Homo sapiens: one gene and its partners. The protein of the gene in region 4 purifies or fractionates together with the protein of the main gene of each other region. This does not show direct contact. Each region holds a gene or a part of one and is shown on either strand. Other genes may lie near its edges.

Evidence for each region.
Region 1: the proteins of NUFIP1 (region 4) and NTM purify together in Homo sapiens (affinity purification with mass spectrometry; 3 studies listed by BioGRID and IntAct, with this or other methods). This does not show direct contact.
Region 2: the proteins of NUFIP1 (region 4) and GPM6A purify together in Homo sapiens (affinity purification with mass spectrometry; 3 studies listed by BioGRID and IntAct, with this or other methods). This does not show direct contact.
Region 3: the proteins of NUFIP1 (region 4) and RAB6B purify together in Homo sapiens (affinity purification with mass spectrometry; 3 studies listed by BioGRID and IntAct, with this or other methods). This does not show direct contact.

What each region holds. Positions count from the first base shown.
Region 1 is NC_000011.10:132,147,115-132,150,651, forward strand, and holds part of NTM (neurotrimin isoform 9 precursor), read left to right. Parts: intron 1-3,537.
Region 2 is NC_000004.12:175,637,728-175,641,264, forward strand, and holds part of GPM6A (neuronal membrane glycoprotein M6-a), read right to left. Parts: intron 3,103-3,537; coding exon 3,026-3,102; intron 2,468-3,025; coding exon 2,402-2,467; intron 1-2,401. UniProt on the Homo sapiens protein: Involved in neuronal differentiation, including differentiation and migration of neuronal stem cells. Plays a role in neuronal plasticity and is involved in neurite and filopodia outgrowth, filopodia motility and probably synapse formation.
Region 3 is NC_000003.12:133,836,846-133,840,382, forward strand, and holds part of RAB6B (ras-related protein Rab-6B), read right to left. Parts: intron 2,773-3,537; coding exon 2,661-2,772; intron 1,415-2,660; coding exon 1,321-1,414; intron 1-1,320. UniProt on the Homo sapiens protein: The small GTPases Rab are key regulators of intracellular membrane trafficking, from the formation of transport vesicles to their fusion with membranes. Rabs cycle between active GTP-bound and inactive GDP-bound states.
Region 4 is NC_000013.11:44,938,718-44,941,616, reverse strand, and holds the end of NUFIP1 (FMR1-interacting protein NUFIP1), read left to right. Parts: intron 1-294; coding exon 295-411; 3' UTR 412-2,368; downstream 2,369-2,899. UniProt on the Homo sapiens protein: Binds RNA.

The sequences.
Region 1 (3,537 bases), on a different chromosome or scaffold from region 4:
TCCCAACTCTCCTGGCCTTCTTCTCCTCCCCTGACTCCTAGTTCATGAGGCCTTGTATGTTTGTGTGTGTGTGTGTGTGTGTGTGTGTGTGTGTGTGTGTGAGAGAGAGAGAGAGAGAGAGAGAGAATATGTGTGTTGGTTATGCTCTCTTAGACCCTGGGAATGGAGCTCACCTCTTCCCACAAGGCAGAACCAGTCCTGGGGCATTCAGACAACACTTAACCCGGTTGAAGGATTCCTAGTTAGTGAGCAAGAGCTGGCATCACACTTGGCCACTTTCTGGCTGTGAGACCTTAATCAAGTTATTACCGTGTCTCAGGGTTCTCTTTCTGTAAAGGGGGTCAACGTGAGGATTGAACTGTAAACGTACTGACATAGAAAACACGTAGAAGAGGGCGTGGCACATACAAGTGCTATTTCAGTGTTAGCTATGGAGCTTTCTTTTCTCTTTTTTAGGACTTTTGTAATTTTTAAAATTTTTGAGCATCTTTTACAGTGGGTCAAATATCTTATTTTGTGATGTCAGCAGTATAGCCCCTGAGCAGCGGCATGCCAGATCCAGTGCTGGAGCCCTTTCCCAGGCTGATCCCGAGGCCCTTTCAACCAGGGACGTGTAGCTCCAGGGTGACAAACTCCTCTCCTAGGGGCTCCTTCCACCAGTCCCCTTGTCGGTGTGTTCAAGAAAAGGGTAAAGAACTATGGGATGATTGGTTAGAGACAGAATAGGAAGGAAGGCAGCTTGAGAAGGAAGAACTGAAGTGAGCCGGAAGAAGGAAGGGGAGGCCTGCTGTTTGACAGTAGGGGAAGGCGGAACTTGGGTCGTGATCAGCACTGTTGAGTGAGGCAGGGTGAGCAGGACTGAGAGGAGGACACATGAGAACAAGGTGATGCTGGACCTGGCTGTGGGCAGAACGTATGCCAGGGGACATGGGAATCCTTGATGCTGTGGCCCAAGTTTGGTCATGCCAAGTTTTTATTATATTTTGCTTACTCTTTCTTCCCCAAAGGAAATTACAATGGCTGTTTAAAAAATGATTCTATAAATGAATACTTTTTGAACTGATGCATGCAAACAGCAATTTTAAAGAAAATAGAATTGCATAGAAGGTATCAGAGTGTATTACAAAGAGTGGAGTAGGTATTGCCATGTGAGATTTTTGTTTCAGTTTGTGTACATTTTTTAATGTAAAATACATTTTTTATTATGGATAGGGAGGCCAAAAATGCTTGAGAATCTCCACTCTGTGGGCAGGGCTGGTGAATGCCCTGGTGCCACCATCTGCATACTCTACCAGGTGGTGGTTTGGAAGCTATTGCTCAGCCCCCCTCCTGTCCTGCCCCAACCCCTGCACACTTAGTGTTGAGAAAAGAATGCCTAGCATTGACAATGAGAGACTGGGAACTAGGAACTATTAGAGATATTTGCTTTAGGAAGCAGGGCCTCATGGAACTGGAAAGTGGAAGGAATTGTGAAAAGTGCTAATGTCTCCTTGAAAACTGGATCATATTTTTGTCATTTTCTTTCTTCAGCCACCCCCACTCACACACACCCCCACACCCCTGCCCTGAACACCTCGCAGAATGCCTGATACAAAGTGAACATTTAATAAATGCTTATTGAAGCAAATGGCTAGAATTAGAGCCAGGTGATCTTATATGGGCTCCAAGAGAGACGGCTGGGTGTTTTTGGGGGTGAGATGATGGGAGGGGGTGAGAGGATGGAGTCTACATCAATCTTCACTCACATCCAAGCTAATGGAAAATGTCTAATCCCTTGCTAGGTGTTTACATCTGTGACTTAGCTAGGTGCCCTCTCGCATGACACACCACCTCAAGTATTGGAATCTCATCTTGGGCTAATTTTCGAATGCTGATGGGTGTATTGATCTGGAAACAAGCTGGGTTAAAAAAGGCATTGGTCTTTTACACAGACTCAGCCCAAGCTAATCCGCTGTCGATATGCCTGGACTGAGTATTATCGACACTTTAATGAATAGAGGACCATAGTTTTTTCAGAGCCAAACTGACCCCCTCTTCAAAGCGATCAGACAAACTAAATAGAGCCAGATTCTTGTGTTTCTGTATTGGAAAGAGGATGCACCACCATCCTGGATTACAAAAAAAAAAAAAAAGGGAAAGAAATATATTTATCTTGGGATCGTTTATTATACCAAACATAAACCCTAATTCCCCTAGCAGAAGCTGACTCTCTGGATTTGAAGTTGCTATTCAGCCCTGAGCTTCTGGAATAAAAGTTGGGCATATTAGGTTTTCAAAATGGTATTATGATCCTTTAAAAAAAGAAATAAAAACAGCAACAACAAAAAGGAACTAAATTGATATTCTGCCCATGAGTATGTGTATTTATGTATATGTAGTCACCTTCATATCTAAATAAATCCACACAGAAGGAAGGTAGTGGCATCTCACAGCATTGCACAAGCTGCTTCAGGTCTGGGGTATGTCTTTCCCCTTACTGTCAAATATCCCATCTACCCCCTAGTTCTCTGTACTGGATTTTCTTCCCCTGTGGTTCTGATCCAATATGGTTATTTCTTGCAGACAGCCGTGAGGCCAAGGCGACCACATGGAGCAAGTCTCTGGGGCAAGCTAGGAGCAAAGGGCATCCTGGGGGAGGAGGGTGACCCTGGAGCCAGTGTGGGAGGGAGATGGAGGGGGAAGGCGGCAGAAAGGAGGAGACAAGAGAACTGAGCCAAGTAGCTACTTGCCAGGGTGGCTATTTTAAATTAAATTTAAATTAGCTACAACCAAACAACATTTAAAATTTACTTCTTCAGTCACACTAGCCACACTGCAGTGCTTCCATAGTCATGCAAGACTACTGTTCCCTTGTGTTCATTTTGCATTACTATAAAGGAATGCCTGAGGCTGGTAATTCACACACATAAAAAAGAGGTTTATTTGGCTCATGGTTCTGCAGCCTGTACAAGCACAGCACCAACATTTGCATCTGGAGAGGGCCTCAGAATGCTTCTATTCGTGGCATGGCGTGAAGGGGACCCAGTATATGCAGAATTGCATGGTGAGAGAAAAAGCCAGAGACAGCAGGGACGGTGCCAGGCTCTTTTTTACCACCAGCTTTCGAGAAAGCTAATAGAGCAAGAACTCACTTGCCCCACCCCCTGCATTTATCTATTTATGCTCCATCCCCATGGCCAGACATCTCCCATTAGGCCCCCACCTCCAATTTTGGAATCAACTTTCCACATAAGATCTACGGGAACAAATACCCAAACTACTGCACTCCTGTGTTGGACAGTGCAGAGAGAGAACATTTGTGTGAACTTCCATTGTAAAAAGCTTTATTGGATAGTGCTATAAGGGGTTACCATTATGGATCAGCAGGTGTTAAAGCTAGAATGGCTTTCCATGGCTTGAAGGGCTAGGTATATTGTGGAAAGGAGAGTGGAATTTTGGAAAGAGAATGGAAATTTTAAATAGATGGTGCTCTTTTAAAAACAAGAGAGAATTGTTGAAAAAGATGGAGTAATGGATTTCCTAGGTTAGCTTCAATTG
Region 2 (3,537 bases), on a different chromosome or scaffold from region 4:
ATTATATATTATATAAAAATATAATATATAATATAAAAATATATAATCTATATATAATATATAATATAAAAATATATAATCTATTTATATATTATATATAAAAATATATAATATATAATATAAAATATATAATCTATTTATATATAATATTTATATATTATATATATATATATACATATATGCATGAATGAAATACTGAAACTCAAGGTCACTCCAATTCAGAAACAGGTGCTTCCTCATGGTTCTTACAAGCATTTCCTCTGGCCTTAAGGGGAACCCAAGCTGCAGGGCTTATTACTGTCCCTCGCTAGGTGAACAGTGATTACTGAAATCTGGTCCAATGCTAAGTCGATTTACTTTGTCAGCATGTAGGACTTCCTAACTTCTCTACAAATAATGGAGTAGAGTAGAACAGAATAAGTTCTTAAGAAATATTATTAATAACATTACAATTACTATTCTCAATTTTTAATATTAAGTTTTTAAGAAATATTATTAATAATAAAGTCCCTGCTTTATTATTCCTGGTACTAGCAGCATTAGTACCAGGAACAGTAGCAGTAGTTATATTTTACCTGTCTCCCAAGACCTACATCATTATCAGAGCTAATAAATTGGAAATACTTAGGTCAATCATTTAAGCTAGTATGGGGTTTTGTGATGACTCTAGACAGAGAAAATAACCCCCAAATAATGCTTAGTACTTGAAAAAATAATCTTCTAAGCTTTCTGTTTTAAATAAAATGTACGTATAGCTTTAAGTATATGCAAAGCATAGATTGCTTAAGAAATACATAATATATAAATTTCTATCATCTCAAAATCTGTTGATTTGTTTTGAGAGTAAGCATTTTCAGGGACATTTAAATAACATTTGTCTAAATAGGTGTTTTTCACTAGTGTATACCTGTATTTTTAGACAGAATTTTATATGCACATATATGTAGCAAATGCAAACAAATATTTATTATAGTCCACTTTTTAAAAGATACCTTCACAGACTTCTTGTACCTGGGTATATATTGCTTGTACATACCCGTGTCATTAAAGTTTTTGACAGCATAGAAATGGGTGTATGAACACAAGGGTACATATGTTTCCTCTGATATCACAACCAGCATGTTTTCTCCTAAGGACAATAATGTTTGGTATATCATTGGCCAGAACTTGCTGATTCTTCCCCAGGGCATAGTTTAGCATTAATTTTAGGTTGAGAATATAAGGCCTTTGCTTTTGTTCTATTTTGATCCCCCCAATTAATCAACCAACATGATCCTTATCAAGCGTCTCACGTTCTGAAACAAAATTTCTATATAGAGGTTTATTCTATATAGAGGTCACTGTATCAAAAATGTTGAGCAACGCTAAAGTAACAAAACATCAAAAATTCATGTTAGTACTGACATAGTTTTATTGAATATATATGTAAGTCATTTTTAATAAAACAAATTAAATACAAAATATTTATGAAATCAGTAAAATAACCACTCTGACATGGCTAATTAGCACATTAGTATTTTCTCATCATTCTTATTTTTAGTCTCTGACAAGAGAAAAACATTTTTTTATGAAAGTGTTCCTTTCACCAATACATTAGATAGATATTGGCACCATGAGGAAAATAATTAAATAAATTCCAATTCATTCACCATCTTTACATATTGACTCGGCTGTCACAGTCGTGAGGTTACTGGGAGTCCTTCTAGGGCTCTAGACTACTCATCCTCAAGGATACAAACAAAGACTGAAGATATTGGCTGCAAAAGCTATTACTGACACTCAGAGCACTTGCTCAGGGTTGATATTTGGCATTCCAGTGGGCATACTGGAACTCATGCCAAGTTAGAAAGGAGGAGACTGGCTCTGGCACGTGGTAGATCCTCCTCATTGTGTAAAAGCTTGATGTCTTAAAAGAAGATCTAAAGACTGGCTCTTAATATTTCTGAAGCAAATTAGATATAGAAGACATGACTTGAAACTACTGACATTTGTTTTTTTTAATAACCTAATTTGTTTTTCATAAATGACTCTATATGGCTTTTTAATGTTCTTAGCTAAGGAAAAAAAAGTAAATCAAGGAATTGATTAGATTACTCACAATGTCACATTGGTATGTACATATATGCTACAGAAATAATTTTTATATTTATAGTAATCTAATATCTAAAATCCTAATGAATTACTATTTTTGTTAATGTTCTCAATATGGTAATAATAATATTTCTTGGGGTTTAGTCTTGTTGTTGACTTACTTACCCATTGTTTTCCCTACTTTTTTTAATCTGATGACATAAATGTGTTTTACATGAACTTCAAACTTTAGAGATAGTTTATCATCTCTACAAGCAAATAGCTTTGGAATTCACATTGAAAACCAAGCACCAGCGCTTTGAGGTCTTACCATAGCAATGACTGCTGCCCCAGCTCCAGCAAGTGCCACAATAAACAAGTGGAAGGTCATGTTCAGCTGCAATGGAAACCACAGAGAATCAAAAGGTGTCAGAGTTATAGGTAGAAGAGAAGTCAAGATTGCTACTGTCTTATAAACAAGACTTTGTACATCTTAAATAAAAGCGAGCCTGTGATAAATCACCCACCTGATTAAAACAGATTATTACAATATATTTTCCCCTGCAAATCATTTAAATCCTTTCAACTTCATCATTATAACATAATTTCATTATAAAGATGAGACAATGATTAATAATGATGGTTTTCATCAGTAACATTATAACAATATAAGGAGGGCTATGCTCTCTTTAAAAACAACTTCATCATGTTTTCAGCCTTCATTAAAATGAGTTTCCAGAAAATTTGAAATAGTTATTATAATTTTTATTGAAATATGCAGAGCATCTAATTCCTATTTATCCTCTACTCCTCCTGAATAACACTACTTCAGGTAAAATTGCCTCTGATAGAATAAAGGGAAAAGTCAATATAGATTTAGTTTTAATACATTATCCAAATAATAAAAAATGAATGCTAAAATTCTGACAAAATTAAAGGCTGTAAAAACACTCACCTCAGTAGATTCGCACATCCTCAAGAAATTCTCAGAGACAGTACAAATTTTCTTTTCCTCTCCAATTGTCACAATTCCTACAATGTGTGGGAAATGACAGTTTAGCAGTATAAATGTTTTGAAGAGCCAAGAGAGAAAAAAATGAGTTTTTGCTAATCAAATCTAAGCAAGTTCCATTTTATCTTATGTTATGTTACAGTGGAAAAATAATCTAGCTTTCATTGTGGATAATAACTATGCATAGAATTATGAATATAATATGCAAGACTATTTAGCCCTCAAGCAATTTAAATAATTTCAATCTGAATTCAATTGAATCTCACCACCAGAATTTCCAGACTCAATTATAGCCAGTTTATTGGTTTGGCCCATTAATGTGATAGTATAGGCATCACAATTATTTTGTTAACTATGCCCCAGACTGTGCTGAAGTCAGGATCTAAATTTGTTCAGCTGGTGCAGTGCTTCTGTTAATCTCTAAAAGCATACTGCCCAAAGGAGTACTTTTTTTT
Region 3 (3,537 bases), on a different chromosome or scaffold from region 4:
TTTGGGGCCCCCAGTGTCACATAGTGTCCCTTCCACCCTTCTTGTCTCTTCTTGTCGTTCTGCCAGCCCACCTTCCCCACTGCCACCAGCACTGTCCACACAGGGCAAACCATCACTGCATCCAGAAGGCCAGTGCTGTATACACAGCTTGCCAAGGGTTCCCAGCAATGCTGGGGTGGCAGGGCAGAAGCGACCGCCAGGCCAACCACACTCCTCACCCAGAGTCCCCTCCCCATACCTCGGGCACCCTGCAGCCACACCTTTGCTGCTCCCCTGCTTGGCATGCCCTCCCTCCTCACCACCTCTCCAAGTCCTTCTCATCCCCAACGGCAGGAGTTCTTAACCCTTCCGTGAGCCAAGGACCCCTCTGGCAATCTGGTTAATCCTATGGACTCCTTTGAAGTATGTGAAATCAATTACATAGGATGATAAAGGGGACTACTGAGTACTGAAATAAAACTTCATCGACATTTGTGCTTCCTTATGAAACACATTGAACAGCGAGAACTAGCAAGAGATCTAATAAGTAGTGTGATGCTGAAACACTGATAGATGTGAAGTTCAAGATACCTGCAACACTATGAGGTGATGGGAAGGCATCTGTGATTTCTATTGGTGGTAAAGCCATAGGCACTGCTAATGTGACTGAGTGTCATTGCCTACATTCATCATTGAAGGACAAATCAGACGTCCTTCAGTGCTACGGACGGGTCAGTGGTTAGTGAAGATAAAGGTGCAATGTTTTCCAGCCCTGTCTGCTGACCTGCTAAATTCCACCCATGGACTACTCAGGGGCCCTCATGCTGCAAGGCTCAGCCCTAACTCCACTGCCTCGCCCTCCTGTGAGTTCCAACCACATCATGGTAGGCTCTTTCCCCCAGGCCTGAGTTGCCCTCCACAGCCCTGAGCACTTGCTAAGCGCAAGGCATGAACCCCAAATGCTGATCAGATTGAATTTTCCTGCACCTGTCATCCAAAGTGGGGTGAGGGGCTAGGGAACCACTGCTTCCCTCAGCCTCCTGGAAGCTGGTGGCTGGACACTCTTAGGGCCTGCTACGTGGGCCGTGACTGGCAACTACTACGGTGGCTGGTGACTTATGTTCTCCAGATGCCATGCCCGGAGTGGTCCCTCCCTCTTTTGGGCTTTACCAGCTCCGGAAATTAGCTCTCCCCTCCCTGGGCGCATCTATGGGTGTTCTGGTTGGCTGCCCCAATCCCATCACCAGCCCTTCAGGGCAAGGCAGCTCTGAGCCTGCAGCTGACCACAGGGCTACACCGTGCCGGGCCCCGTGCCGGGCCCCGTGCCAGGTGTGTCCTCACCTGCTTCACGTTGTAGCCAGTCTTCGCACTGGTCTCAATGAACATGACGCTCAGTTCTTTGGCGCGCTGCTCCCCCTCCTCGATGGTTATCTGCCTAGAGATGAGGGGAAGGGGGGAAATCAGCTCAGCAGAGAAGCAGACCCTGGCAGATATGAGGAGGGACCCACCCAGCAGGGCAGAGGGAGCCCACTGGGCCCTTGGTCAGTCCTGAAGACAGGCTCTGATCCCAAGGGTCCCTCCCGGGCACCAACCACAGTCTCGCTAGCACAAAGCAGGCACCAGGGAACAGTAGGACACTATCCGCTTCCCCCACTCCTTCCTTTGTGTCTTCTCAGCTTCAAAGCAGGCCCTGGGGTAGGGCTGCCCCATACCTGCCTTTCCCAGTAGTCACTACTGCAGAGCCTGTGCTTATGAAGAGATTCAAGCCAGGCAGTGCCACTCTGGGTGGTATTATCAGTCGCATTTTCCCTGTGAGAACACTAATGCTAAAAGTGTCTCCCCCAGGGCCACAAAGCTACTTAGCAGAGAGGGCTCCATGATGGGGCAGGCAGAAGTGGGTGAGGGTATGAAGGGCCTGGGTACCCTTTGTACTGGGATTTGAGCCCAGTTTTCCTTACTTTAAGGACAGAACTCTAGTAAAGCAGGCTCTAATTCAGATGATTCCTCAGGTGGTCAAGGGACGCTGCAGGAAGCCCACACTGCTTGCTGGAGTCCATGGCCTGTCACTTTATCTGCCCAAGTCAGGGTCATGTAAAATGAGTGGACAATGTACACACATGGCACCTCAGTTCTCCCTGTGCATGGAGGGCAGCATGGAGGAGCCTCTTCAGAGAAAGCTTCATGCCAGACGCAGCCACAAACCAGGCTAAGCAGGCTACGGCCATAGGTTTGTGGTCTGAATGCTCTGCATGCTCACACCTAGGGCCCAGGGCATTCACAGCCCCACGCACATTGGTGCAGACACTTCACAGGCACAGACAGTTCACAGTGCACACGCTGGGGCCTAGAGGACTGCTGTGTCTGGGGCAGGGCTGTGGCCATGGCAGGGCCTTAGACCATGCACTGCTGGGTCAAGCCAGGTGCACAGTGCTCTGTGTAGACAGCAAACGGAGAAGTGCCCCGCCCCTGCCTGGTGGTGGAAGACAGGGCTTCACAGATGAGATACCCATGGATGAGAGTCTACCAGGTGTCCTCAAAGCTCCTAGTGTCTCAAGGGACCTTTTCCGGATGCATGGTCAGAAGCACAGACACACCACCCATGCATCCCAGAGCTCCCTGTCCAGGAGCAGTTACAGAGGAGTGGAGGGTGGCACCCTGCACCTGTGTGCCCTTGCACCTACCTCTTATCAGCCAGGTCCGTCTTGTTGCCCACCAGCATGATGATAACATCACTGCCCCTCTCTGTCCTGACGTCGTCGATCCACTTAGAGGTCTGTTGGAAGGAGTTGAGATCTGGAGGCAGAAAGTGAGGATAAACTGAAAGCCAGGGCCAGCCACCAGTGGGAGATGGGAAGGGGAGGTGTGAGCCAGGAGCAGGAGGGAGGGTGAGCATGTGCCCTCAGATACCCAGGGAGGGGTGTGAGCTCAGTCAACACAGATCAGCTGGGTAGGGCCTTTCAGAGGGAACCGGGCCCTGCCCTGCGGCCCTGGGGAGCCACTTGCACTGTTCAGCCACCCTTTGTGGGAGAGGAATCACCCCATCTGGAAGATCACAGTGTCATGATTTGCCACATGGAATAGTGGCTTTAGGGGCCCACCTGAGAGACCTGACTCTGGGGATTCAGAGTGGAGAGTGAGAACTGGGTCACACGTGTGTGTGCATACACACACACACACACACATGCGCGCGCGACTTGGCAAGTTTGGGAACAGTGAGGGTGGGCAGAGGAGGACACAGCAGCCTCTAGGGAAGGAAGGGCCCTACTGAGTGGTGTCCCCACCATGGGAGCTCAGGAGAGTTTGGGGAAGGCCAGAGGGGTTTCTGAAGAGAACCCTCAGGCTCTGCAGATGAGAGGAGGGGAAAGGTGGCCCCGGGACTAGTCAGGGGAGCCAGGTGCACTCAAAAATCCAGGAGAGACAAGGCCACTTCTGGGCAGCCTGACCCCCCTCAGCTGCCATGATAGGCCTTGCAGGGCAGAGCAGCTATAAGGCAATACCCACCACTCGGCAGCCTGCACACCCAAGGGGAGGGGAGGTAGCTGTCCTCAGAAGCCTCAG
Region 4 (2,899 bases):
GCGTGAACCCGGGAGGCGGAGCTTGCAGTGAGCTGAGATCCCGCCACTGCACTCCAGCCTGGGCAACAGAGCGAGACTCCGTCTCAAAATAAATAAATAAATAAAAAGCTAGATAGTCTTGATATAAATTAAAAGGACATGTTCTTGCATCGTTTTTTAGCAAAATAGTGAATATAATACATATTTCTTATTGTTCTGTCTTCTTTATATGGTGAGGGTACATGCAATATTTTAGATTGTATTTCCCAGATATAATTTATTTACTACCTCATCTTTTTTTAAATTGTGTTTTAGCTTCTAGCTCCGGACATTCGACATGAAAGAAATGTGATTTTGCAGTGTGTTCGGTACATCATCAAAAAAGACTTTTTTGGACTGGATACTAATTCTGCGAAAAGTAAAGATGTATAGGCATCTGGTGTTTCAGCATACATAACTGAAGCATGTGAAACAGTATCATCCTCGTTAGTAGAGGAAAACCAAAACCCTTTTTTCCGTCAAAATTGGATTTGTAATTAAATTGTAAGCCTCGTAGGATGTATGTTGGAATTTTAAGTCTTTCCTTTGGTTCTATGCAAATAAAAAAATAACTGATTTTTTAAGACTGTGTCTGTATTGTTGGGATTGAATCTAGTATTTGCTGGGAGAATTTTTTCTTTGTATTTATTTTAATGTATTGTTCTCATGTAAGAATGACTGATGTTGTGTTAGTTAAGAATTGAAGATAGGTTTAGCAGTAAAGAAGAAAGCTTTTAAAAGGATTGATTCAGCTAAGCAAAGTTGGGCAGAGAAATACAGCCATTTTGTTTTTAATGCAGAAAAGGAAGATGTTCTGTAGCAAGGGGGAATATTTTAAAAATAAACCAGATCAAATTAATACAATCAGAAGGTTTCGAAATGTAAATATTCCTTATTTAAGACATGTTTAAATTCACCTACTAGCACGACTTACATAGCTCAAATATTGAATGTTTAAAATATTAATACAGATGGGGCCTCTTTATGTTTAGATAAAATTGAAGTACTTAATTGAAGCTTTTTAAAAATTGTAAAGTAAATGAAAGCTATTGAGATCTTTTTGTCTCCTATAATACCAGGGAATTTGAGCTTGTGTTCTAGTCATTGTACTAGCTGTAGCTATTGGTCTGTCCTTTTGACATACAGCTAAAAGGGACTAAATTTGTAAAAAATTAGTTTGTTATAGTTGAAGATTAACTTTTCCTAACATTGTGATTATTGAAGTTCATGAATCTTGCTGTCAAGGAAGAAAGGTAAGAAAGCTGATAGCTCCTCCATGTTGGTAAAATCCTCTCCAGAATCTTGGAACACCTGGCATGTGACCCTAGTGACGTCACAGACCTGAGATGAAGATTCATGTTTAGCCAGTGTTTTCCAGCCTTGTACCCACCATACAGATCTGTTTATTCTGTTTCACCCTACTCCTCCAGTGAGCCCCATATTTTGGGAAATTATCTGCCTTATACATTAACTAATTCAATTCATGTAACACTGTTGAGTGCTTACTCTTTGTACCTCTATTGTGCCTATATTAAAGGTATACAAATAAATAAGGCCATGTCTGACTTCAAGGAACTCAGTTTAATTTTGATATATTCAAAGATGTGATTCCCAACCAACTCAGGATGAAGTAACTAGTGTTACAACTGAGTTGATATTCTAAAATATAACACAGTTTGTACTTTTATTACTAGTTAGCATACACATTTTATAGGCTTATGGGTTAATAAATGAATTCATGGACTCCTGGACTACTTTCATTGATGACCATATCTCCAGGGATGTTGTTGATCCCCACACTGCCTTAAGGTATATTATAGAAACAGTTTTATTTTCCATTTTTCTTGTTTCCTGATAATAAATGTATTTAGGACTGAAAATACTCCTGAGTACTCCCTTGGCTGTATGTCTGACAGTCTTTAGCTATGGTGACTATTGTTTATTTTTAATGGGTATTTCAGATTCCAAGTGTATTTAAAATTTCTAAGGAGATATAATATAGCCTGTATGGTTTCTACTTTATGGAATTATATGGTCAATATTTGTAAATATTCTATGAGTTTTGGGTGGGTAGAGGGGTGCTTTGCCTGTTTTGGGTACAGGTTTTTTTGGATTTAGCTTGTTAATTGTTCAAACTTTCTGCCTTCTACATTCCTATCTTATTGTTCGTTTAATCAGTTTCTGAAATGTAAGCATTACATGACTATTGGTGAGTTGTGCCTTTTATAACTGAAATACTTTACTTTTTCTCATATCCTCTATAATTGACTTCTATTTTCCTTAATCAAACCAGCTCTGGGAAATTTAATACATTTATATTAATTGAGATTATTAAAACATTTGGACTATTCCTGGCTGTCTTACTTTGTATTTTCTATATATCATGCTCTCTTGTTTTTATTTTGTCATCTTACTGGCTTGTTATTTTTTTCTCCTTGTTATTCCTCCAGTGGTTTGGAAGTAATTAAACCTATTGCTATTTCTTTAGTGATTACCTTTTTTCTTTAAGTTTAGAGTTAATTAGTAGCCACATCTTCCATCCATCTCCCAATTAAGTCAGTAACCTTAGCATTGTTTCACTTCCCCACCTCAGCCTCTTTTTGTGATGTAATCAGATACGATTTTAGTTTTAGATTAATCCCTGGGATCTTGGTGCGTATGTGTAAATAGTTATTAGGCCACTGTGAGTTTTACTGTTTTCTTCTGATTGCTTTCTCTTGCATCCCAGGATTAGTTTTCTGGTGTGCTGCTGCATATCTTCAAGTAATTAAATGTTGAATCTTCAATTTAAAGTTTTTTAAATTGAGTTATGGTTTTAGACTCAAAATCATTTTCCTTTGGAATTTTGAAGCTATAACAATCATTTGCTGTTATCCAGTAT